Linked DNA regions of Homo sapiens: all the other regions are reported to be linked to region 1. The links are microRNA targets in miRTarBase. Many come from high-throughput screens and were not tested one by one. Region 1 holds a microRNA gene; each other region holds the end of a gene's coding sequence.
Evidence for each region. Region 1 holds the annotated microRNA hsa-miR-107 (AGCAGCAUUGUACAGGGCUAUCA, at 1,503-1,525, shown strand). A microRNA usually pairs through its seed, bases 2 to 8, with sites in the 3' UTR of a target mRNA and lowers its output. Matches are read on the target gene's strand: a 7mer-m8 pairs with bases 2 to 8, a 7mer-A1 pairs with bases 2 to 7 and ends in A, and an 8mer does both.

Region 1 (4,090 bases):
GCACTCAGGTTAGTGGCTAGTTGAAGGTCTCACAACAGAAATCAGTGAGAGTCTTTCTTTGGTTTTGTTCTCAAATTTAGGGGCAAATTTTCCTTGATGTTTATTTTTAGTCTCTGCCCTCTTTTCATATCCAGTCTACCCTAAAGCTCTGTTGCACCCTAGCACTTTAATTCAAGTGCCCCTTTGTTCGTCTGCTTTTATTCACCCATATTAATAGTCTTGACGTAGTTGGGGACTTGGATGGGCATATCTTAAAGTAAAATTTAAAAATAAACCTTATTATTCCTTCAGTCTTGGAGGTGGAACATTCCTAGGCCTATGTTGCTTGCTGACTGGTTGTGAGACCTTTGAAGAAGCTCTGGAAATGGCAGCTAAAGGCGACAGCACCAATGTTGATAAACTGGTGAAGGACATTTACGGAGGAGACTATGAACGATTTGGCCTTCAAGGATCTGCTGTAGCATCAAGGTAGAGATTAAGTAGCTAGGAGCAGTAGTGATTAAACACAAGGCAGCCTCTCCACCCTGGCCATTCACTAAGTTGTTTTAAAATGTCAGTCCACCAGCCTGGTGCAGATACCTGTTGTATCAGAGCTCAGACTTGATCTCCTGCCCTTGATGAAGCACTGAGATGTTTAGCTCTTGATGCTTGTTCTTAAAATAAGGCAACTTTGAAAGAAGGTTCTAGAAAACTGCAATAGTTTCACCTGTTCCATTCTTGTCCAGATATCTAGAGGCATTAATTTTCCCCCCCCATTAATGGACATGCTACTTTGTCCCTATTAAGAAAAGGGCGGTCAGCCATGCATACTATAATTCTGTCTGCTTATAAACCATAGTAGCAAAATTGGATCACTTGAGTTTGAACAGTTACTCGTAGAGCCTTCCACAATACTTTGGTGGAAGGATGGGCCCTGCCTGAGGACGATTTTGAACACTCTCGCTGATATTTCCAACATAGCTTTGGCAACATGATGAGTAAAGAAAAGCGAGATTCCATCAGCAAGGAAGACCTCGCCCGGGCCACATTGGTCACCATCACCAACAACATTGGCTCCATTGCTCGGATGTGCGCGTTGAATGAGGTAAGGCCTTACTCAACCCGGTGAAAGCTGTGTGTCATTCATATACATCATCTTGGCAGTGCAACACCTGTTGACTCTTACACAACTACATATCCTTAGGAAAGCTTCCCTTTACTCTAGTCACACTTTACAGAACAGGAGGGGTGTGTGTTGGGGGAGGGGGAGGAATATATGCTTTATTTTTAAGAAGGCACTGGATGATAATGAATGATAAACCATTCACCTGTGGAAACAGGATACAATTACAACCCATGTCATAGTCTCTCTAACCATCATTATTGCCATGTGTCCACTGAAATGTGAGGAAAAGGTCTGAGCATCCTTGCACATAACTGCAGGTAAAATGCTCGACTTGCAATATTCGATATTCTCTCTGCTTTCAGCTTCTTTACAGTGTTGCCTTGTGGCATGGAGTTCAAGCAGCATTGTACAGGGCTATCAAAGCACAGAGAGCTTGCTACAGCCAAGGCCAGCCAGAGTCCCAGGCACAAAAAGGGGTGGAGCTGGTGACATACAAAGTTGTATTAACATGTTTTGAAGCATTGCAAGATTCGTTTGGAAAAAATTGAACCTTTTCTGAAATACAAGGTGTATAAAGTAGAACTCTTCACACTGAGGTATATTAGAAAGACAGGAAAGAGGAGTTGAGGCATGGAACAGGTCATAGGAGAGTATTAAAGAACCACAGTAGATCTGTAATGGAGTTTTTATAAATACAGCTTTTAATAGAGGTGACATACATACAGAAGAAGGCTCAAATTATAAGCTTACAGTTTAATTTACACACACAAGCAACCCTGTATAGCCATCACCCAGATCAAGAAATAGAACATTATAGGTACTCAGAAAGCCCCTTGAGCCCCCTCTCAGTTGAATAGTTGAATGTTAGTGTATGAGGCAGTCTTTATGATACATGGGTGTTAGCCCTGCCTTTGAGTTCTGGGTTGACAAAAAACATACTCTCCTTGCATAACACTGAACAGAGTATGTTACTGGCCTGCAGATCAGCGATATACCTTTTTGGAAGCCCTCAGTTCAGACGGAGTTTAAATGGGAGGCTGATACTCAGAGAAAAGAGCATTCCAGAGATGTTTTTTCAAAGTCCACTTGAGTCATGGGACTCAATGTAACAGAGTTTATTTCTTGACATTAACCTTTAAAGGGAATTTTTCCAAGTAATGAAACAAGCCCCAAGACCAATATGTGTGTAGTTGGCTGTACTCATGGGCTCTCAAAGGTCAGCTGGTAACAACCCTTGCCCCACAGAGCAATAGATGCCCTTTCCCCTACTTTCCGCAGAGCTGGCTTCTTGTGCTTTTTGCTGGAGTGAGCCAGCAGGTCAGCAGGTCTTTTCACAGGCATCAGAATCCCTTTGGGAGAGAGCAACTGACTTTACTTTTCACTTTTGATTTCAATTTCAATATTGTTGATTGGTGGAGTAGAGCGAGTGCCAATTTGAAAATGTAGCCATGTTATACACTGGTTTGAGCAACTATTTTATATGTTTCTGTGGGGCTGAATGAGTGAAGGGAATCACCAGTCGCCTTGGGGCCAAGGCTCTACCAGAGGGTGTCCAGTCAGTGCAGACTCCCAGTGGCCGCACCAGTGACTGGCAGTGTTGCATTTCCCATGAGAGCAGCCACCAAGTCCCTCAGTCCTTGCTTTGCTCTCTGGAGTCACTGATTTGAGAACCTTTGATTGCAGCCATTTCATTGAGGGACACCACGTTTACCAAATCTAAAACATTTTTGCTGTGATTCTTGAGATGCTGTGAAATGCTTCCCCATCAGTTATAAATTTTCTGATTCAAATTTTTGGATAGATAATACAAACACATAATACAGACTTCTAAGACATTAGAAGGATACACAAGGAAGTGAGTCACCATTTCCACTTCTGTCTCTCAGTGTTAACCTCAGTAGAGGCTGCCATTTTTTTTAGGGTTTTTTTGTTTGTTTTTATTGTACGTATTACAATATATCTTTGTTTATATTGTATGTAATGTAGGATACATTTATCTTTCCAAAGGTAGCAAACTCTATATAGCATTCTTTTTACAAAATAATAGCTTTATTGAAATATAATTATATGCTATACAATTCACCCTCCATATACTATTCTATATCTTGCTTTATCAGCTTTTTATTAAGAAAATTCATAAACATATGTAAAGGAGAGAGAACAGTATAAAGAACCTCCATTAATCCATCAGTGCAGATTCTGCAATCATTAAGGCTTCACAACACATGCTTTCTCTATATTTTCTTCTTCCTCCTCCCTCTGGTCCTCTCTCCTTCTTCCCTCTTTTTTGCTAAAATACTAGAAAACAAATCCCAGATATTATATCAATCTACCCTATATATTTTAATAAGCATCTCTAAAAATACTGCCTTTTGCTTTTTGACGTAATAACGCATCTTGAAATTGATCATATCAGTATATTTTAAATTGCTTCATTTTTAATGGCCATATAGCATTTTAACATATAGATATGCTGTTATTGATTTGTTCAATTTCCTAATGATATTTAGGTTTTTCCAGTCTTTTACTATTATTTAAAAATTCAGTGTATTTGTATACGGTATACACACATATATGTACACACATGTATATTATTTTGCCTACATGTGAGTATATCAATAGGATAAATTCCTAGAAGGGAACTTGCTGAGTCATCGGATATGTTGATTGTAATATTAACAGATATAAAGTTCCCTCCATAAAGGTGGTTCTAATTTACATTCCCACCAAGCAGGGTTATAACGGTACAAGTTTCTCCACAGAGTTATCAAACTTTTTGATTTTTTTCAATGTAATAGGTTAAAAATTATACCTTATTTTGGGATTAACTATTAATATTATTTACTCATTACTCTATTGGGTTGTTGGACTTTTTTTCTTGTTGATTTATGGAACTCTTTATTAATTAACAAATCCATTTTATGTGAAATGTACTGATAATATTTTCCATTTATTGCTTCCCGTTTGGATTTGTTTGTGGTGATG
Region 2 (4,090 bases), not on the chromosome of region 1:
ATAGTGGTAGCTTCAAAAGCTTCAACAGACCTAATGATGTAATTTATTCAGGACAGAAAAAAAAATATGTAGCCAACATTCTTGCAAGAATTACTTTCTTATGGAATTTAAGATTTCCTCAAATATTTTCTTTTCTATATAGCGTTTTGTTCTTGTGTAGTTATCTGCCTAGGATACAGACAGGATATTGAGACTATTTCAGAAAGTAGACACACTAAAAACATTTGACAAATTAAAAAAATTTTGCATAAAACAGGTTACCCTTTCCTGCTGACTATACTTAAGAAATACCAAAGTAGCATACAAAATGCTTCTAAACTTTCAAAATATCTGAATAAAAACAAAGATCCTACTTTTAACTGAGATAGATTTATAATTCTTACTTACAAGATAAAAAAATTTCCTAAAATTTATTTTTAAATTTCACATAACCTGCTATAATTCGCTGTAAAAAATGGATGTCAAAATAGAATTTTAAATATACAAATTGTTTTTGATAACTACCTTTCATACATTTTATTTAAACTGTAGCATTAGCTCAAGATGAAACTTTTTAAAAGAAACCATAGGCTTTTGTCCAACTCAAAGATTCAAGCCCAGATTCTGAACAAAGTAAATGTGATGAAATTTATGAAAAACTATACTGTACAGTCAAAACAGTGATGGTGCCTCAGTAAATAACTTCAGTAAAATATCCAGTGCTCCAAATAGCTGAGCCATCTTTCTAAGGTTCACTCTGCTTCTCTCCCCCAGCCCTCATGGCCTGTGCTACCATCTATTCTTTTAGCGTTTATGCTGGAGGGCCTTATAGTTCCTTTAAAAGTACACTGAAAATACTTTATATCACAGCTTATTCTAACCACTGGTTCTCAAATTAAAAGGTATATTTCAGTGCATATTTCATAGCCACATTGCAGAACTAATATTTGAAAACTCTTGGGGGAAATTTTGGTAACAAAATTGCAAAATGACATGATTATTTATGAGCTTTCTATAAAAAGTTTTTTTTTTTTTTTTTTTTTTACTTTAGAGATCATACCTACTTTCCTGCCTTTTTGATAAGTAAGGCATGAAATGAAACAAAAGTTTTGAGCTGTAAGGTGCCTATAAAGGATGTCACTACAGCATTCACAATGCTAGGTGTGTAAGATGACATGGCTGTTACCATGTACTAAAGAACCCCATCATGTGAGAGATCGCTCAAAGTCATTAACACAAAGCAGTGAAAATCATCCAGCAAAGCAGTGCTTATGAGAGACTAGAATTCAGAGAAATGCAAGGTACGAACTTCTCTCTAATCCAAGGGTATTCTGCTGTGATCTTCTAATCAGTGATGATTGTGCTTATGCACACGACATCTTCATGGGAGAGACCAGGCTGATTGCAAAATAATGACAACCAACCAGTTTACCTCAACATAGCTCACTCTGCAATGTCAGACATGCAGTGTAGAGCAGTCACAAAGTCAAGCCATGAATACAGGGATGGAAAAACATTCCAGTGAGCTGGTCTCTACAATTTTTAAGACACTTCATCCTCCCAATTATATTCTTTGTCATAAAGAGGAAAAACAGCAAGATTATTAAATCCAAAAAGTCACAGATGTCACAAGGGGATGAAATAATTTCCTCATTTTTTTTCTTTATCAGTGTAGGAAAAGCTGTCTTTCCATAGCCCACACTCATAATAGCACTTCAACTAGGCTCCTTTGAAAATGAAAAGTGAACAAGTTTCCTAATGCTGGCCTTATAAGATCTAAAGAGATGATTAAATTCAAACCAGGCTGAGCTCTTACTCTGAGCTATTTCAGCCACTGATGTTTGTAAAATATAGGAAGAAGATTCCAATAGGCAATTTGCATTGGCAAGCACTGGACTACAGAATTCATCACTGTTTTCTGAAAAAATATAATTAAACCTTAATGGAATTATGACACTTTTATGAGGTTTATAATTCACAGCCACCTCTCATCATATTTTGTTCTTCTTTCCATTTTTACCATTTCAAATATTGCAATATTGCCCACCATAAACCACTGAAAATGATTATTTATGTATATTCCATTTATTTCTCTAGGGGGTCTAGGTAATTTGAATCAGGAGCTCCAAGTACCATTTAAAAAGGTGAGTCTTTAAAAACCATCAGTGTTTTAAACACTTGATTAGAAAAAAGATAACAGCTCCTTGTAGTGATCTAGCTTATGTGCTTTATGGTATCTTTTCAAAAGGAGAGTATAAATCATTGTACATAAAATCAAAATAGCTAATATACATTTTTTTCTGGCACTTTTGAGAAATTAGGCATTGAACATAAAACATCTTATAAACTTACATAACAAAAATAAATGTTTACATTTTAATCTTAGATTACCTTAGGGTAGCAGTTAACTTATGAGATGCCACACTGTTGGTGTGGGCAGCGGAGACCATGGGAAATACACATTCATGTCCACAGCCCTTCAGCGATGGATGCATGGCTGCCGTCCAAATATGTGGTCTGTGTCCCAACATAAAGATTAAGGCTCTCTGTTTTGAAGGAATGAGTTCTGGGCTTAAACAAGTCTAGAAGTACCACAATACTCATGGAAAATACTGAAAAGATTCGGACGAGTTTTCAAACACTGGGGGAAACACGTTTTTGACTAGAAAAATAAAATAAAGCATCTAAAACTGACTTCAAGTACTTTGGGGAGAGGCTGCTGATATCGAATGCCAAAATAAGAAGGAACAAAGACAGAAGAGACTCCAGGGACGTCCCTCCCCATCCCTTCACCCGCAGGGTCCAGATCCCCAGGTGCTGATGCGCAACTCTTTGGGGAGGACTGGCGAGCTGGGCAGAAAGCAGCAGCCATGGTTTGTCACCATCCTAAAACACCTATATTGAGGGCAAAGGCCAAGCTTTGTGTGAAAATTTCCTTGGGATGAACCACAGGAATCTGGACATTTCAAGGGGGAAAAAGCCTTAAAGTCAGTAGCAGACAGAGAAAAGGAAAGAGAGGAAGAAAAACCTGCTTTTCTGAATGGCAGTACTTTAGGCCGGGGGCATTGTGGTCCTTGGTGAGTGCAGCTTTTCCATACAGCTTGGCTTTCCTCACTAATGAGATGAGACCACTGACAGCTGGGATCTTTTGTGGGTGGTGAGGGTGCAGCAGGGAGATGTGCTTGGGTGTACCTGTCCATCTGGCAGGCAGGGGCACACTCAGGTGCAGCCTAGTCCGTACCTCTCTGTCTCAGAAACTGAACAACTGGGAGAACAGTCGACAGGGCCTCTCCAACCATCTTCAGGTGACTAAAGCAGCATATGAAGTATAGGTTTGTGTCACTTCTTCTCTTCCACAGAAGAAACGTCTCCAGACACTGATCACAGGCTACCCAGGGTTGTCTTCTGGGTTGCTAGAGCCTGGTAATATCTCTGCCTTGCTGCAAGTCACTTATGCTCTCGTAGTCGTTCTCCTTTGGGACGAGACCGTGGTGGCCATTGGTCCCCAGGGTGGCCTTTTCTTCCTCTCTGTTGAGAGTCTGTATCGCTTCATAATCAGGCTCTGGCTCCTCGCTGGGCCTCCCTGCTGGTGGAAGTGTGCTGTTTGGAGTTTTTTCGAAGTCTTTAACAGTAGCATAGAGATCATTACAGGAGGAGGGTGACCTCTGTGGGTCCCCTTGAATGGAGGTGTAGGTGGACTCCGGAACTGTAAGCGACTGCCCCGATTTATTCACTAACTGTCCAGGTTTATTTACTGATGAGTACATAGCTGAGATCTAGGAGACAAAGGGAGAGTTGAATAAACTTCCAGCTGTGACTTCCCCCTCCCTCTTTTTAGTGACAAGCTACATACTGAGCACTCCTGGGTTTCTGTGTGTGTACTCCTTAAAGATTTGTTCTTTCTTATCTGTACTAATTATGGAGCACATTACTAGAGAATAATTACACACACTATCTTCAACTATGTTAACTAGATCAGTCATATTCCCTTAATTCCGTGAAAACCCAGTTCTCTTGGGTCTGCCGAGGAATTTGAGGAGAGGTGGAGTGGGAAGCTCCTGAAGGCCCCGGGGACCTGACCACAGCATGTGTTTTATTTCATTTCTTTATC
Region 3 (4,090 bases), not on the chromosome of region 1:
CTCCGCCTACCAGGTTCAAGCGATTCTCCTGCCTCAGCCTCCTGGGTAGCTGGGATTGCAGGCGCATGCTACCATGCCCTGCTAATTTTTTTCTCAAGTGATCCACCTGCTTCAGCCTCCCAAAGTGCTGGGATTACAGGTATGAGGCACCACGCCCGGCTCCAATGTATTCTTTAGTTGCCTGTTCCATCCATGTATCTAATATCTGTATTTCCTTGATCAAGTTTCATTTGTCTTGTCTTTCCCTGTGTAGTTTTAAATTTAATGTCAAGTTGTCAAACAACGGAAATAATTTTGAGTAACTGGGGAGCTAACAAGTTGGGTTTCTTGCCTTTTAGTCTCTTCCAGTTGCGCCTCTTCTCCTTGGTGGTCTTCTTAAGCAACAGACTCTTCCACAAGACAGTCTACCTGCAGTCGGCCCTGAGCAGCTCTACTTCTGCAGAGAAGTTCCCTTCACCGCATCCGTCGCCTGCCAAACTGAAGGCTACTGCAGGTCACTGAGTTGCCTGCCATCCAAAGGGGATGGGCGGGATTGGAAGAAGCTGTGGCAGCTCTTTTCCCTGTTCACCTCCCGCCTGCCAGGGAAGGCAGGACCCGCTCTGCCAAGGGCCCTCTGCGTATTCCCTTCTCTCTGAGGAATTGAAATTTTTGTCTCTGGTGCACGTAAGGCAGAATGTTCCCTGACACCAGTGTGTGGATTTTTAACATCACCGTGAGTCTGAAAGGACCACAGGTTTTTCTGCAGCTATTTTCTAGCATTTGCCAGTCCCTGTGCCTGGACTGATTGGAACACTTTGTTTTTCTCCCTGTGCCATTTACCCTTCCACCTTTCCATCCTGCCTTCTACCACCCTTGGATGAATGGATTTTGTAATTCTAGCTGTTGTATTTTGTGAATTTGTTAATTTTGTTGTTTTTCTGTGAAACACATACATTGGATATGGGAGGTAAAGGAGTGTCCCAGTTGCTCCTGGTCACTCCCTTTATAGCCATTACTGTCTTGTTTCTTGTAACTCAGGTTAGGTTTTGGTCTCTCTTGCTCCACTGCAAAAAAAAAAAAAAAAAAAAAAAAAAAAAAAAAGCCTGAAGAGATGAGATAGGAGGAAAGACCTCACAGCCAGATCTGCTGGGTTTTGAGGAGTGATTTTCTTTCTTCCCCTTGAAGGGGAAAAAGCTATTTTCATTGGTACATTTAAAGTCCCCCAACTATGGGGAGGTACCAATTCTGGACAAGTGCCACTACAACAACACTAAACCTGAACTTTTCAACTCCGTTGGTGGTGGGAGGCAGCGGGCAGAAATTTACTGTTGGCCACTGCCAGGTCTATTTCATATTTCAAAGGAATATTGGGTGCTGCATATAGGAACTGAAGGGGTCAATGTATTAAACCTGTGATTGGTTGTTTTCCTGTCATTTTGAGAGACTAAATGTGGGGGGCAGATGTCAAAATACCTGTACAATTTTAAAATGTCACAATTAAACATGAGCTGGTTTCCCACAAAGTGTCTAATGGTTGAATTTGCAAATCTTGATTTCGAGAAATGTATTCATGGAATATAAGACTTTGTCTTGGATAATTTAGTTACAGTTTTGAGAAATTAGCCCTGAAAAATGTTCCCTGAGAAAGCCTGGATTATATGATTATAATCACATTTATATTTGGTAGAAGAGTCAGATTATTACTTTTTCTAAAGTCTATATGTATATCGCTACTGTATATTCATGAAGGGAGAAAGACCCTCCTAGATATTGGTGTATTGAGTATTAATCGAGGGAAGCCGTTAAACATCTGGTTAACAGAGACCTTTACTATGTGCAAGATAAAATATGGAATTAAAAATTGTTGCTGGGGCCAGGCATGGTAACTGATGGCTGGGATTCCAGCACTTTGGCAGGGGCCAAGGCAGGAGGATCACTTGAGTCCAGGAGTGCGAGACCAGTCTGGGCAACATAGTAAAACCCCGTCTCTATTAACTATAAAATAGGTTAGGCCGGGCATGGTGGCTCATGCCTGTAATCCCAGCACTTTGGGAGGCTGGGGCAGGTGGATCACCTGAGGTTGGGAGTTCAAGACCAGCCTGGCCAGCATGGTGAAATCTCGTCTCTACTAAAAATACAAAAAATTAGCCGGGCGTGGTGGCACACACCTGTAATCCCAGCTGCTCAGAAGGCTGAGGCAGGAGAATTGCTTGAACCCAGGAGGCAGAGGTTGCAGTGAGCCGAGATCGTGCCATTGCACTCAAGCCTGGGCAAGAAGAGCAAAACTCCATCTCAAAAAAAAAAAAAGGTTAAAAAAAAATTGTTGCTGAGAGTTGTAAACCAAGTTTGAAGGTTTATGCGGTTGATGGAAGGAGGGTTTTTAAATGGTAGGCATCTTGGAAGTGAACACTTTCCAGCTTGGGCAGAAAAAATTGTAAAAGACATGGTTTAAAGTAAGGTTTACTTCCAACATTCTCCTATGACATCTCTGGTCATTTAACAATAGTATTGCAGACTACTTCCAGATTGCTATGGGTGTGGTTTGCAGAAGACTTCAGTATTTCATCAGCTTGTAAGTGATAAGTGATTGCCTTATTTAAGCTTAGTTTCTTAAAACTAAGTTTTAAAAGTAGGCTTAGTTATTTAAGCAGTCACATCTTTGCTTCCTGAAATTTATATTTGTACCATTTAGAAGCATCTCATAAACTATTGAAAAAAAAAATAGAAACATCTCAGTTTGGTTTAAAAGGGTGAAGGAGACTGGGCGTGGTGGCTCAGGCCTGTAATCCCAGCACTTTGGGAGGCTCAAGGCAGGTGGATGATGAGGTCAGGAATCCAAGACCAGCCTGGCCAACATGGTGAAACCCTGTCTCTACTAAAAATACAAAAATTAGCTGGGCATGGTGGTGTACACCTCTATTCCCAGCTACTCGGGAGGCTGAGGCAGGAGAATCGCTTGAACCTGGGAGGTGGAGGTTGCAGTAAGCCACGATCGCACCACTGCACACCAGCCTGGGTGACAGAGTGAGACTCTGTTTTGCGGGGGAAAAAAAGGGTGAGGGAAGTTGAGTGGATGAAGGTATATGATTTTTATCCCCAGCACTGTGCCTGGCTATAGAAAATGTGTAAAGGTTTAAATGACTGGAAGTGAGGAATCTCCAGAGTTTTATTAGCACAGTTGAGCAGCCAAGCCTTTTGTATAAAGGCTAGATTAGGCATATCTGTGATAAGAGAAATGTGACCATCTCAAATGAGTTATATACACAAAGCAGTGTAAATTTTTCCTGCCTTTCACGAGGGTATTGTCACTGAGAGCAGTGATTAGGAAATGGGTCAAAAAGAGACTATATTTTTGCCAAGTGCAGAATACCTGTTTGAGGCAGACTAATAATTAGTAACCAAAAACAAGGGAGCTCACAAAACTAAAAATGAAAATTTGTTTGTTTTAATCACAAAACCAGTAGGATCTGAGGAATTGTTCCCAGAAGCACTTTTCAAGGGATAGACATCACAGCTTGGACAGGTATATGTAATAGAAAACACAAGCCTTTTTATTCTATCTATAGAGCTGAGTTGTCTGCTATAGCAACTCTCAAAATTAGAAAGTAGATGCTTTAGATCTGAGTACGTTAAGTCTGCTAGAAACGTAAATGACACATTCATGTACTGATGTGTTAACTGCTCTGCACTTAATAAAAGGATAGCATCTATGAGAGAAAAGGCAACTACAGTTGTCCATTCACTGTCTCCTCATTTTCCACCCACAAATAGTACTTTATTTTCTGATTACAGCAGTAGTACGTTCATTCTGCTCCTTTATGTGTGTTTACCTCCATCATTGAGATTGCTCTGGTGAAGGTTACTGTTCATCAGTAGTGGGGTGGAATAGATAGTTTAGCAGTCATCTCACCTTTTATTCACATATTCTGGGCTGGGTGCAGTGGCTCACGCCTGTAATTCTAGCACTTTGGGAGGCCGAGGCGGGCGGATTATGGGGTCAGGAGATCGAGGCCATCCTGGCTAACATGGTGAAACCCCGTCTCTACTAAAAATACAAAAAATTAGCTGGGCGAGGTGGCACGCGCCTGTGGTCCCAGCTACTCAGGAGTCT
Region 4 (4,090 bases), not on the chromosome of region 1:
ATGCCAGTGACCTCAGACTTCCACCTCTGTGCCTCCAAACCTCACCCCAGGAGATGTCAGGAGCCAAAGAGCTCCCCAAGCCAAGATTCTGGAGAAGGCGGCCCTGGCCAGAACCGTGTGCTTCTGACGCCCCTGCAGGGCAGCTGGAAAGGGGACAGGGAAGCCAAGGCCGGTCCAGCCCCGGGAACAGGGAGATGGCATGTGGAGCCTGACAAAGAGCGTGGGCTTTATTGTTCATTCATGATTAGAAAAGTGGGTGCTGGGACCCCCGTGGAGGGGGTTGGGCTCTGCCCGGTCACTGCTGGTGCAGGGTATATACAAGGTCTACGGCCCTCACAGGCCTGACTGGCTCCCTCTTGATGGCCACCAAGCCCAGGCACTTAAGACCAGAGCCAGTGGCCATCCGTAGGGCCAAAGGCAGTTCTGGCTGTGCAGGGTCCCTGGGTTAGGAAGTGGACAGAGGCTGGGGTCACCAGGGCAACCCGGACAGGGCCCACGGGAGGCAGGGACGCTGGTGCTTTGGGAGAGGGAGAGACATCTCCTTGTCCTTCTGGAATGTCCTGAGACAGAGGCTGGCCCTGGTCACTCATCCAGCCCATCCACGGACCTGCTGTGTGTCCTTGAGTGGGTCGAGACCCTTCTCTGGGCACAGGTCTCTGCAGCTGTCCAGTTCTGACCCTCTGGGCTATTGTGGCCAGCCCCCATGTGCCAGGAGGGAGCTGCCTCCTGGGAACAGCTGCTGAGAGACAAGAGTGGCCTCCTGCGTGGTGCTTGGCCGCAGTCAGAGCAAGGGCTGGTCCGGGGACATGGTGCAGATGAGGCCAGCCTGGGCTCTGGCAGTCTGGGTAGTGCCATGTGCAGGGAGGTGGACACCTCACAGGTATGGCGACTCCTGGGGTCGGGCAGCTGAGTTGCAGGGCAGGCAACATCCAGGGTCCTGGAAAGGAGACAGAGGAGAGGCTCTGAGCCTGGAAGGAGGGAGAGGAGAGGCTCTGAGCCTGGAAGGAGGGAGAGGAGAGGGTCTGAGCCTGGAAGGAGGGAGAGGAGAGGGTCTGAGCCTGGAAGGAGGGAGAGGAGAGGGTCTGAGCCTGGAAGGAGGAAGAGGAGAGGGTCTGAGCCTGGGAAGGGGGGAGAGGAGAGGCTCTGAGCCTGGAAGGAGGGAGAGGAGAGGCTCTGAGCCTGGAAGGAGGGAGAGGAGAGGCTCTGAGCCAGGCTGTGACAAGCCCCGAGTGTCAGGGCCATTTGCACACCCGGACTCAGGAAGGAGAAGAGCCTGATTCTGACATGAGAGGTGTCAAAGTACTCCATGCCTCAGTTTCCCCTCTGAAAATGGAATGAATATAGCATGGCTGGGTTACTGCCAGGACTTAGAGGCCTGGCCCAGCATGGGGGGCTCGGGTTGGGCAGCTGTGACCATAGCCACCCACGAAGCCTGAGACCTCTCTGACTGCTCCACGCAGGACACACAGCAGCTTTGGCCTCCGAGCCTCTGAGGACAGCTTTAAGGTCCACTGCTGGGTCCCCACGTGGCCCACAGACGCAGCACCCTCTTCCCGGCAGGCAGATAACTCATGCTTGGGAGAGTTAGGGACTGCATTCAGCACACACAGCAGGTGATTAATAAATGGCCTGGCCACATGCCCAAGCCAGGGAGCAGCTGACATCTAGGTGTTCTGGAAGAGGACAACTTAACTACAAACTGGAGGCAGCATCTGGACAGTGACTCGGACCCCACATGGGGCCGCCCAGATCCAGGTCCTTTCAGGAGGGTGACTTCAGGCTCCACGGCCGGGACATTGGGGGCTGGCGTGATCCCACTGGGGGAATGGCCTTGGGTGTGGTAGGGGAGCTTGAGAGGCCATGGGCCACTACGAGCAGCGGTCACTCGTTGGCCCCCGTGTGGGGAGGGGTGAGGCCAGGTGGATGCAGGGTGCTCCCAACCCAGCTGCTGGCCCCAGCGCCCCACCTCATCCTCACTATGCCCTCTTGGGGAATTTTTTTTTTTTCCCGAGATGGAGTCTCATACTGTTGCCCAGGCTGGAGTGCAATGGCGTGATCTCAGTTCACTGCAATCTCCACCTTCCAGGTTCAAGCGATTCTCCTGCCTCACCCTCCTGAGTAGCTGGGATTACAGGCATGCGCCATCACGCCTGGCTAATTTTGTATTTTTAGCAGAGACACGGTATCTCCATGTTGGTCAGGCTGGTCTCAAGCTCCCGACCTCAGGTGATCCGCTTGCCTCAGCCACCCAAAGTGCTGGGATTACAGGTGTGAGCCACCGTGCCTGGCCTGGGGAAATTTTTATATATCCTTGACACACAGGCGCTCTGCCCCAAGAGCACTGCTCCTGTCTACTCTGCCATGGGCCACCACTGGTGGAGAGATGGCCACCTGCCAGGAGTGCCCACCCCTCCCTTAGCAACTCACCTCCACCTCTGCTACAAACCGGAGGGGTGACCCCTAGGCCTAAGGTCGCGGGGACTGTGGTGTGTGGCCCTGGCCTGGCTGCATGGACTGTAGTGTGTGCACCATGTGGCCCTGGCCATGGCTGCATCCCAGGCCTTCCTGTGGATCCTGCTCCCAGGCTGTGTCACTGGGCAGACGCTCACCCTCTCTGAGCAAGGACACAGGGAGAGGCTGTATGTGGTGTGAGAAGTCTTCCTACACTGGGTGCCTCGTCCTGTAGAGACAGCCTCAGTCTGCATCCTGCACACAGCCAGGGTCCAGCCTAAGGCAGGCAGCTAACAGATTCTGCGAGGCCCGGCAAGGGGCAGACTTGAAGAGTCACAAGGGCTCCACGTGACAAGATCCTGAATCCCACCGTCCTGGTCAGAGTGGCACAGTGAGGTGGGCATGTCAGGCAGGCGGTCATACCAAGGTCCCTTTTTCTCAGACGAGGGCTGGGAGGAAGCTTCACCTGCTAAGTGGAGCTGATAAGGGGTGCAGAGCCCCTGACTTATCAAGAGAAGCCGGAAATCTTTGGGTTTTGGGTGTTTTTTGAGACAGAGTCTCACTCTGTCGCTCAGGCTGGAGTGCAGTAGTACGATCTTAGCTCACTGCAACCTCTGCCTCCTGGGTTCAAGCGATTCTCCTGCCTCAGCCTCCTGAGTAGCTGGGACTACAGGGATGTGCCACCATGCCTGGCCACTTTTTGTATTTTTAGTAGAGACGGGGTTTCACCCTGTTGGCGAGGCTGGTCTCGAACTCCTGACCTCAAGTGATCTGCCCGCCTCAGCCTCCCAAAGTGCTGGGATTACCGGCATGAGCCACCGCGCCTGACCCAGAAATCTTTTTTTTTTTATCGGACAGACATTCTGAATGTATAGAAATCTTACGTTTAAGTGAGTTCTCCAGGATGTTCAAATGGTGGCTCCTACACACATTCCATCTAAACACTGTGACCACAGGACCCCAGGTGGCCAGCACCAGTGGCAGGGCTGGCCTCAAGGCAGTGGCCAGGCATTGGCCTTGTAGGTGTGGACGAGGATGCCCATGGCCTAGGAAGGTGTCCAAGGCTGGCCGGCCAGGGACTCACCACACTGCAAGAGCCTCCAACAGCGAGCAACCCCAGGACTGCAGGCCTCGCGCCCCATCTCCCAGCTCACCTGGGTGTCCTACTGCTGGGGTGCCATGTCCATCAAGGGCTTCTGGACCCCGAAGGCCGTGATGAAGATGTTGACTACCACGATGATGAACACCAGGCCCGTGGCCAGGTTGTTGAGGAAGTCCAGCTTGGCGTGCTTGGCCGGGTTGTTAAGGTCGTACTTGACTGTGGGCGAGAGAGGAGTGGATGGTGCCAAGGGCAGCCCAGACGCAGCGCCCCAGCCTGGGACAGTGGAAGGGGACCCACCCCAGCGGTCAAGCTGTCCTGGGACATTACAGGGCTCTCAGTCGCATTTAGGATGAGTTTTGTCGCCCAGAGAAAAATACATCTGTTTTGCTGAAACATGGACAACAGCGCCCCTGGCTTGGGCAACCCCACGGTCTATGACCCCACCTTCTGTAGCCCCCATATTTTCCTTATACGAATTGAAGCTATGGACGTCAACCAAAGGCCAGGTTTGGGCAAATGCACTGAGCCCTTTGCGTG
Region 5 (4,081 bases), not on the chromosome of region 1:
TCATCTCTGCCCCAGAAGGTGGTTCAGTGGAATGTGTTGACCAGCATTCTCAGGGCACAGGAGCATATTACATGGAAACTTACTTAAAAAAGAAGCGAGTATACTGAGTTAAGCTCTCTCCTAATAACCCCCTAAGGTTCTCTGCAGTATCTCTGCTGTTCATCGCTGCCTTAACTTCATTCAAACTAGCCATATCCTTTAAATACGGGTTTATAGTTTCCCAGAAGGAACTGTGTTGTGCAGCAGGCAGAAATGCCAAATAAAAAATAGCAATAAGAAGAGACATCAATTGAGGACATTTTCCACTAGAGTCAGATGCATCTTAATCAGTGTGCTAACTTACAATCCATTGGAGAAACTAACAATGTTCCAATATTCCTTGATTTAGGACTGGGAATAATTCTGACACCATATATAAAAGAAGTTTGAAGCAATAAATGGGAAACAGTGTTGTTTCCTGAGCCTTAGAAGAATGAGTTTCTTATAAGCCAATGTGCATTTCAATTTACTTTCCCTAGAAGTAATTGCATTTATAGATTTTTAGGACTTTTCCTAGAACTACAAGGGTGCAAGTACCAAATGTGCTGATGGTAATATTATAAAGATGCTCTACATGCACACTCAATTACGCCCACACCAGCCATGCAAAATTAAACCCGGTAAGAGAGTGACAGTGATATCCAAGGTATCCACTACTACCGATGCTTTAAGATGTTGTTTACCATTTATACCTTCTGTGAAAAATAGAAGGTATTTTAAGAAAAGTAACTTTGGTGATCTAATAAAAGGGTTTGGCAAACTACACCCTGGGTCCACATTTGGTCTACCACCCGCTTTTGTGCTGCCTGCAAGCTAAGACTAATGTTTACATTTTTAAATGGTTGGAGGAAAAAAGAAAACTTATGACATGAAATTTATATGAAATTCAGATTTCAGTGTCCATAAATAAACTTTTATTGGGACGTTGCCATGCTCATTCATTTACGTGTTGTCTGTGGCACTCTTACGCTACAAGGGCAGAACTGATTAGCTTCAACAGAGACTGTATGGCCTACAAAGACCATATGGCCTAAAATTTCAAGTATCTGGCCATTTATATATAGTTTGCTGATCCCTGATCTAATAGCACTAATTCTAATAGCAACTATTCCTTTCAATTCACCTAAAGACAGACCTTTAGCCTTTAGACAGACTTGTAAGTGGAAAGGAACATGGGTTTCTGTGCTCATTTCATAGCGTAGACTAGTAATGATCTAATGACTAGAATGGGGCCTATTTTGATCACTAAATGCCCTATTATTTCCACAATATAGTATAGTAAAGCAGTCAATACTGCACTTTCTGATGGAGTCTTAAGGAGTCACAGTATTTATAACCATTTTGAGCTAATAAGCTATACCTCACTCTCTGCTTTCTCTCTCACTCTTTTTGATAGTGTGTTAGGGTGAAAAATCAGTTATTTAACCCAATTTACTTGTGAAAGAAGTTTTATCTTTATGGACTATGATGACTTTTGACATCACCATTTCTTGAAGACCTTGGTATTAAATGCATGAGAAACCTTTTGCCATCTAGAAATTTCTAAGTTTGTTTATGTTATAAGACTGTAATTAATTGATAGGGAATTTGGGATCTCAATCCGGGGCTTTTTGAAATCAGATCATTAAATATCTCGTCACTTTGGGGACTTGTTATTTTTAACTATGATGTGGATATCCTGTTTTAATTATGAAGTCTAGAATTGGTACATATGTTGTATGCTTTGTAAAGAATTTCACTTGGTCTAATTTATTGCATATACTAGCTTCTGTTGGAAAATGACTGACAGCTAGAAAGTTTAAGGTAATTTCTAAGTATACTACCTATAAGTAACTGATAAGAATTAGGCATCATTCAGTGATATAGCAGATGACTAATGGGTTTTTCAGGCCCTGCACTTCTCTTTCCCATTTTCCTGTTGCATTCAGCCTCTTCAATGCTTAGTCACACCTCCACTATAGTACAAACAAACAAACAAACAGAAGAAAGGAAAGATGGTGAATTTTGCAACAGAGCTGCAAAAAGTCAGTCAGTCAAAGCAGGAAGAGGTTGAAGGAACTAAAACAAACAAACAAAGGTGTCTGGACTACAGCACAGTGGACATGCCATCCATACTGGCCTGTGCCCCGTTATCAATCACTGGGCACAACAGTGAAGAAGTGCAAATCAAGTGGTGTTTGTTTGTTTGTTAGTAGTAAGGACCGTAACCCACCCCTTCCTCCCCCCAAAACTATACTGTTATTTTTCTATGTAAGCAAATTGTTTGAAATGCTTTGAAAATGAAATCTTAATATTAAAAGGCATATGCATGTAAAGTCTTTAGTATATTTATTTGTATAAAGAGTAAACAAAGTGCATATAGAGTGGCCACAGGTTTGACACAGAGACCTTGGTGATGTAGGCTATGAACAAATTTAAATGGCAACTTCATTGCTGCCACTGAACCAATCCTGAATTTGGGCTCAACAGGTGAAAAGTAACAATATCAAACGAATACTAAACAGCATAACAAAAAGATTTTCAGACTCTTGGTCATAAAGACCGTAATCGTTCACATTGAATCAATGACTAAACATTTTTGATTACCCAGCTACCTCCAAGCAAACTGAAAACTGTCTAGTGGATCCTGAAGTCCATAGTGCCTCTAGCCGGGTCTTTCAAGTGTTGCACCACAGGGTGATGATTGATGGTAAAAACAGGGATCAACCCTTGTAGATCGGTGGTAAGTATGGAAACCCTCTAAGAACAGTGCAGCGTATGTGGTATTCAGACTGGTTGCATACAGCATTCAAAACCAGTGCTGGAATAGCTTGCCCCAAAGTGGTAGAGTTATAAAAGGATATACATTGACGTTTCTTAAAAGCATGTGTAATAGCATCCAGGTTCTGGGAATGAGTTCTGATTAAAGGTATACTGCTTAGGAAAGCACTGGCACAGGCTTAGTTCTTGAGAATTAACATGCAGCAAATTATCTATTCCACAGCTATCCCCCCATGTAGAACCAGCTTTCTCAAAAATGGGTGCTAGTGATCACCCAAAGGAACAGGAGCTAAGCCACTGGAGAAACAAAGTTTAAGTCCTACTGGTGAGAGAATACAGTCATTTTTGTACAGAAACAATATATACTACCTGGTATCTAATATTTTAAGAATGCATGGTCTAGTACTGTATAGATACTGAAATTTGAGGGCTAAGTCCATCAATCTTTCTTTATCTATGATTAATGTGCCAGCAAAACATTTCAGATCAGCTGGCAGCAGGGAAAAGCAATCATCTTCAGATATTATTTTGGTCAACTCCTCGTTTTCAAAAATCCCCTTTTGGTAATGCAGTTGTGATGGTGAACTAGCCAGATGAAATGGTGGTATATTCTTTCCACAAGGAGGAGTGCTTAAGTGCTTTCAAATATTTTGGTTGTCATTATGTGTCACTAAGTTACTGGTACCAAATTTAAAGAGGAAGTCCTTACACATATTAAGCACTACAGTGTGCCTTATACATGTATATGTACTGAAGTATGAGTTCAGTGACTTTTTGGACAGAACACAAACTTCTTTCATTAGAAATTTTTAAAAAATGACTTGGGCATTTGTTGCAGGAGAAGGACTTGATAATCTGTGGAATTTAAATGTTATTCATGCTTCTTATTTTAAAAGTGCTTCAAATCCTTCAATAAGGTTCTGAAAGCTTGTCCGATTGGATGGTTGGAATTCCCAGCATTTCCTCATAAGTTGATAAACCTGTAAAAAGAAAGAAGTAACAACAGTAAAAATGTTAGATCTGGGAACTTTAAAAAATAACAGAAATATCAAGAGTAAGAAAATAATTTTGGAAATGCAATGACTTTTCCTTAAAGACTAGAAAAACAAGAGTATTTGAATAGTTTAAAACACAGAAAATGGGATACAACTCTAGTTCATAAATAATATTTTAACATTTGAGAAGCTCAAGGGTTGACTGGCTGCAATAAAATCCAGGTCATTCCTGTAAACCAGTTAGAGGGTGAAGCAGAATCTCAGTTCAGACTTGAACTTTCCAGACT
Region 6 (4,086 bases), not on the chromosome of region 1:
AGAGCAGTTTGGACAACCATCCCATCAAAACCTGCATCTTCTGTGTTTAGTGTTTGTATCCATACGTGAACACCTGGATTTTTCATCCTGACTGTATAGTTCTTGAAAATAAGGCTACAGTGATGCCTAACATATTTGTCAGACTATTGTCTTAACAGTGTATTAACTTGGGATCTTGCTTTCTTCTGCCTTCTCCTTTAGAGTTGCTGGAATTGTGGCCGTAAAGCGAGTGAAACCTGCAGTGGCTGTAACACAGCCCGATACTGTGGCTCATTTTGCCAGCACAAAGACTGGGAGAAGCACCATCACATCTGTGGACAGACCCTGCAGGCCCAGCAGCAGGGAGACACACCTGCAGTCAGCTCCTCTGTCACGCCCAACAGCGGGGCTGGGAGCCCGATGGACACACCACCAGCAGCCACTCCGAGGTCAACCACCCCGGGAACCCCTTCCACCATAGAGACAACCCCTCGCTAGACGTGAACTCAGAACTGTCGGAGGAAAGACAACACAACCAACGCGAAACCAATTCCTCATCCTCAGATGCTCAAAGTTGTTTTTTTTGTTTGTTTGTTTATTAGATGAATTATCCTATTTCAGTACTTCAGCAAGAGAGAACCTAACTGTATCTTGAGGTGGTAGTAAAACACAGAGGGCCAGTAACGGGTCGTAATGACTTATTGTGGATAACAAAGATATCTTTTCTTTAGAGAACTGAAAAGAGAGCAGAGAATATAACATGAAATGATAGATTTGACCTCCTCCCTGTTATTTTCAAGTAGCTGGGATTTTAAACTAGATGACCTCATTAACCGATGCTTTACCAAACAGCAAACCAAGAGATTGCTAATTGCTGTTGAAAGCAAAAATGCTAATATTAAAAGTCACAATGTTCTTTATATACAATAATGGAAAAAAAAAAAAGAGGAAAACCCTCAAGGGCATGAGCATTGGATACAGCAGTAGACATTTTAACAAGAAGATGAATGGCGTCCGTGGGTTGCTAACTGAACTTTGAAGACCCGCTACAAAACGCGCAGATGTGCAGCAGATTGGAAGGAGACACAGATGTTCGGTTTTTTTCCTGTTTCTGAAAAGAAATAATAATATCCAGGTCAACAGAATGAAAAATGAAAGATGATTTGCAATGGGATGTATGAATACAGCAGCAAGAAAAAAAAATGCCATAATACAAAAGGCTCCATATATATATATATATATATATATATACACACACACACACGCACATATACACACACACACACACACACACACACACACACACACACACACACACACACACACAAGTAAGAGACTCAGCCTGCAGTTAATTAGCATTCTGGCAGTTTTGACATCAGCCAGCTGCCCTAAATAACCCTTCAACGTTTCTTCACTTTTGCAAGGTTCCACAGAGTAAGACATTGGGTCTATTCCAGCTCATTCATTTTATATTGAAAAAAATAATTTTAAAAATGGTGGCTTCAGCTCCAGCCCCTTTCCAAAATTTTTCAACCCCACCCTGTTTGGATTTTTAATTAAAAACTAGTAGTTCTCTTGGTGTTAAAACACTTCTGTCCTGTGAGGTTTCCCAATGGTGTTTTTCTTGTAAATGTGTTGGACAAATGTGAAGATGCATTGTAGTTTAACCATATGCCCACATTTAGTCTCTTTATTCCTAGTTGGTGAGAAACCTGTATCTTTCTATGCTGCTTTTATATCTGTATGTATTAGTGATATTTCTCTAGTAGTTAAAAAAAAAAAAAGGAAAAAAAGACTCTTTTTGGTTGTCCTCAAGAAAAGAAAAGAAGAAAAGCTATCTTTCGGAGCTGCTATTTCACTCTCTTATAGGATTTTTTTTTTTCCTGAAAACCAGCATGCTTCACGGAATGCTAACATATTGGTGTTTTTGTAAGAGGGATGTACATAAATGTATTTTGCACTGTCACAATGACTCCCTAGGCATGCTTTTTGTTTTTTTTTTTTTTTTTTTGAGCAAATTCTTTTTAAATATGCTAGAGCCATTTCATCAAGTTTAGCTGTAGCATAGAGTAGTCGTGGAATTTTTCTTTTTTTTTTTTTTAAATCATTATTAGGGACTTTTTTAAAAAAATAAAATAACAAGATATCCTACTTTAAAAAAAAAGGACAGTGCATGCATATTGCTGTAAGGTCGTTTAAGTATTTCTAATTTTACAAAAGTAAAAATCATTAGAGCTCCAAATGCTGAGGTGTAGATTGACAGCTTTAACACTGCTGAATGCCAGGTTATACAGTATTCTTACAAAAAGGGAAGTCAGCCAAAGACTGATCTGATGGACCAAAATCGGAATTTTGAAAAGCACCAGTACTACTTTCCAAATGATCAGCAGGTTAAACATGTTCAGCAAGGTATAGTATGAATCCATTAACCCTTCGTTGTCCAGGGTCCAGACCAGAACTACTTGTTAGTTTTGAAAACAGTAGCCCAGGATGTGGTTGTGTGCTTTAGGAAAGTCAGCAGTGCTGCAGGCTGTGTAGACAACCAAAGTTTACAAGGCTGGGAAGACACTTCTCCAAATACATATACACCAGGCATTTCTTTAAAATCAAAAACAATCCATTAGCTTTGGGGCGGGGGGTGGGGGGAGGGTTAAATGTAGGCCTTGGAAACAGTTTTAAGTGGCTTTTAAGTATCTGCATAGAGGCAATCCTAAGGTTTGCTTTAAGTCTCTTAAATCTAACATTTTTAAAAGCATTTCTTCCCTGTATTTTCATATACAAGTTGGTTTTAATTTTGTTTGGGTGGTGTTATTTTTTTTAAATGACTTTTTAGTTTAGAAAGTTCTGATGAGCAAATAAATACATCTATCTACATGTTGGAAGTCCATCTGCCAGCACACCTGCTTAAAGTGAAATGAAAGCACATAACCAGGCTCTGAATGGGTTATATTTTATCATGGTGCTCCCAGAATCCTTTGACCTCACTCTGCTTTCTAGTCTGCTTGTGACACTGGACAGTCCTTTCTTACAGAGCTATTATATGTTCTAGGCTACGAAGGGTTAAATAATCCCAAAAATGAGGTATGTCATACCCACACGTCTTTATCTCTAGAAGCTGTGATGTATGTGAAACAGCACTGTTATTCTTAACACTAGTGTGTAAAATAAGGATTAGTACAGTACGTCTCATTACTTTTTAATTCAGGGCACCCTGAGTGAAAACAAATACAAAAAAAAATCCCTAACTCTGAGCTCTATCTCTGATTCCTCTTCCTCCTTCCCCTCTTCCTCCTCTTCCTCTCCTCCTGTTTTGCTACATTCTCCTCAGTGGCAAAAAGTTTCACTCTACCTCTGACAGCATGTATATTGCACCAGTAGCTAACAAAAACTGGTCTAGTCAAACCAAATGGGCACAAAAGAACCAGGATACCAAAAGTTAAGCTCATACAGCTGCAAACCATATCACTTCTTGGTAACAATGCAGACCTCATAAACCTAAAGAAGAGAAAGAAAAGAAAACTTTTGTTACTTTCCTTTTTTGCTTGTCACTTATATACAGGCTATGTGAGAATATAATTTGTAGGTATAACACATTAAGAAAAAGTTATCTTCATTGGATAGAATTGAATGGTGGTCGCTGATAGGAATAGGGCGTCCTCTAGCTCTTATCTCTGTCTCTTACTCTTTTCTCTTTCTCTTTTTCTCTGTCATGAGACTGTGTGTGACAGGGCCACCTGTCTTTTTTTTTTCTTAAATTTTTTTTTTTTTTATGTGTAGGTGCATGTCTTGGGGATTTAAAAATTTCAAGGCTGGTTTACTTATGCAAAGCATGCCTACGTCTGGAATACTTAGGGAAAGAAAGCGACTCCATGTTGTCCGAATTCCTCAAGGGACAGAAAAAAAATTGGAGACTGTTGAAATGCAGATTTGAAGTAATTTTTTTAAAATATTATTTTGGGTTCTGCGACATTGTGAAAAATTAAAGTTGTTGTGCAATACTTAATTCAGACATGTACCACAAGTTAATGGTAGACTAACACTGGGGGGTGGGGTCTAGGCATCATGCTTTTGTCAGCATACTCTTGAGCTTTTAAGTCTACTATGTCT

Region 2: the mRNA of PAG1 is a reported target of hsa-miR-107. Seed matches in the 3' UTR shown: 7mer-m8 at 3,294-3,300 and 7mer-A1 at 3,144-3,150.
Region 3: miRTarBase lists EI24 as a target of hsa-miR-107. Seed matches in the 3' UTR shown: 7mer-A1 at 1,352-1,358.
Region 4: the mRNA of NINJ1 is a reported target of hsa-miR-107. The part of its 3' UTR that is shown has no 7-base or 8-base seed match.
Region 5: the mRNA of JAK1 is a reported target of hsa-miR-107. Seed matches in the 3' UTR shown: 7mer-A1 at 2,999-3,005.
Region 6: miRTarBase lists RUNX1T1 as a target of hsa-miR-107. Seed matches in the 3' UTR shown: 7mer-m8 at 1,704-1,710 and 7mer-A1 at 2,501-2,507.

What each region holds. Positions count from the first base shown.
Region 1 is chr10:89,590,191-89,594,280 of GRCh38, reverse strand. It overlaps MIR107 (microRNA 107), which reads left to right and starts at 1,454; the gene lies at 1,454-1,534. It overlaps PANK1 (pantothenate kinase 1), which reads left to right. Exons shown (of 7, transcript NM_148977.3): 4 at 292-468; 5 at 961-1,084.
Region 2 is chr8:80,973,152-80,977,241 of GRCh38, forward strand. PAG1 (phosphoprotein membrane anchor with glycosphingolipid microdomains 1) reads right to left here. Exons shown (of 9, transcript NM_018440.4): 9 at 1-3,755. The coding sequence ends at 3,393. Among named protein-coding and RNA genes, the nearest start is that of ZNF704, 100 kb to the left of the region's middle.
Region 3 is chr11:125,583,183-125,587,272 of GRCh38, forward strand. EI24 (EI24 autophagy associated transmembrane protein) reads left to right here. Exons shown (of 11, transcript NM_004879.5): 11 at 339-1,502. The coding sequence ends at 501. All of the region lies in intron 1 of STT3A-AS1 (STT3A antisense RNA 1), which reads right to left. Among named protein-coding and RNA genes, the nearest start is that of STT3A-AS1, 7.3 kb to the right of the region's middle.
Region 4 is chr9:93,121,294-93,125,383 of GRCh38, forward strand. It overlaps NINJ1 (ninjurin 1), which reads right to left. Exons shown (of 4, transcript NM_004148.4): 3 at 3,606-3,769; 4 at 203-937. The coding sequence ends at 3,615. Among named protein-coding and RNA genes, the nearest start is that of NINJ1, 11 kb to the right of the region's middle. RefSeq lists a silencer at 3,621-3,785.
Region 5 is chr1:64,830,879-64,834,959 of GRCh38, forward strand. It overlaps JAK1 (Janus kinase 1), which reads right to left. Exons shown (of 25, transcript NM_002227.4): 25 at 2,351-3,779. The coding sequence ends at 3,684. It overlaps RAVER2 (ribonucleoprotein, PTB binding 2), which reads left to right. Exons shown (of 12, transcript NM_001366165.2): 12 at 1-2,354. The coding sequence ends at 107. Among named protein-coding and RNA genes, the nearest start is that of RAVER2, 88 kb to the left of the region's middle.
Region 6 is chr8:91,956,633-91,960,718 of GRCh38, reverse strand. RUNX1T1 (RUNX1 partner transcriptional co-repressor 1) reads left to right here. Exons shown (of 12, transcript NM_175634.3): 12 at 202-4,086. The coding sequence ends at 477. Among named protein-coding and RNA genes, the nearest start is that of RUNX1T1, 140 kb to the left of the region's middle.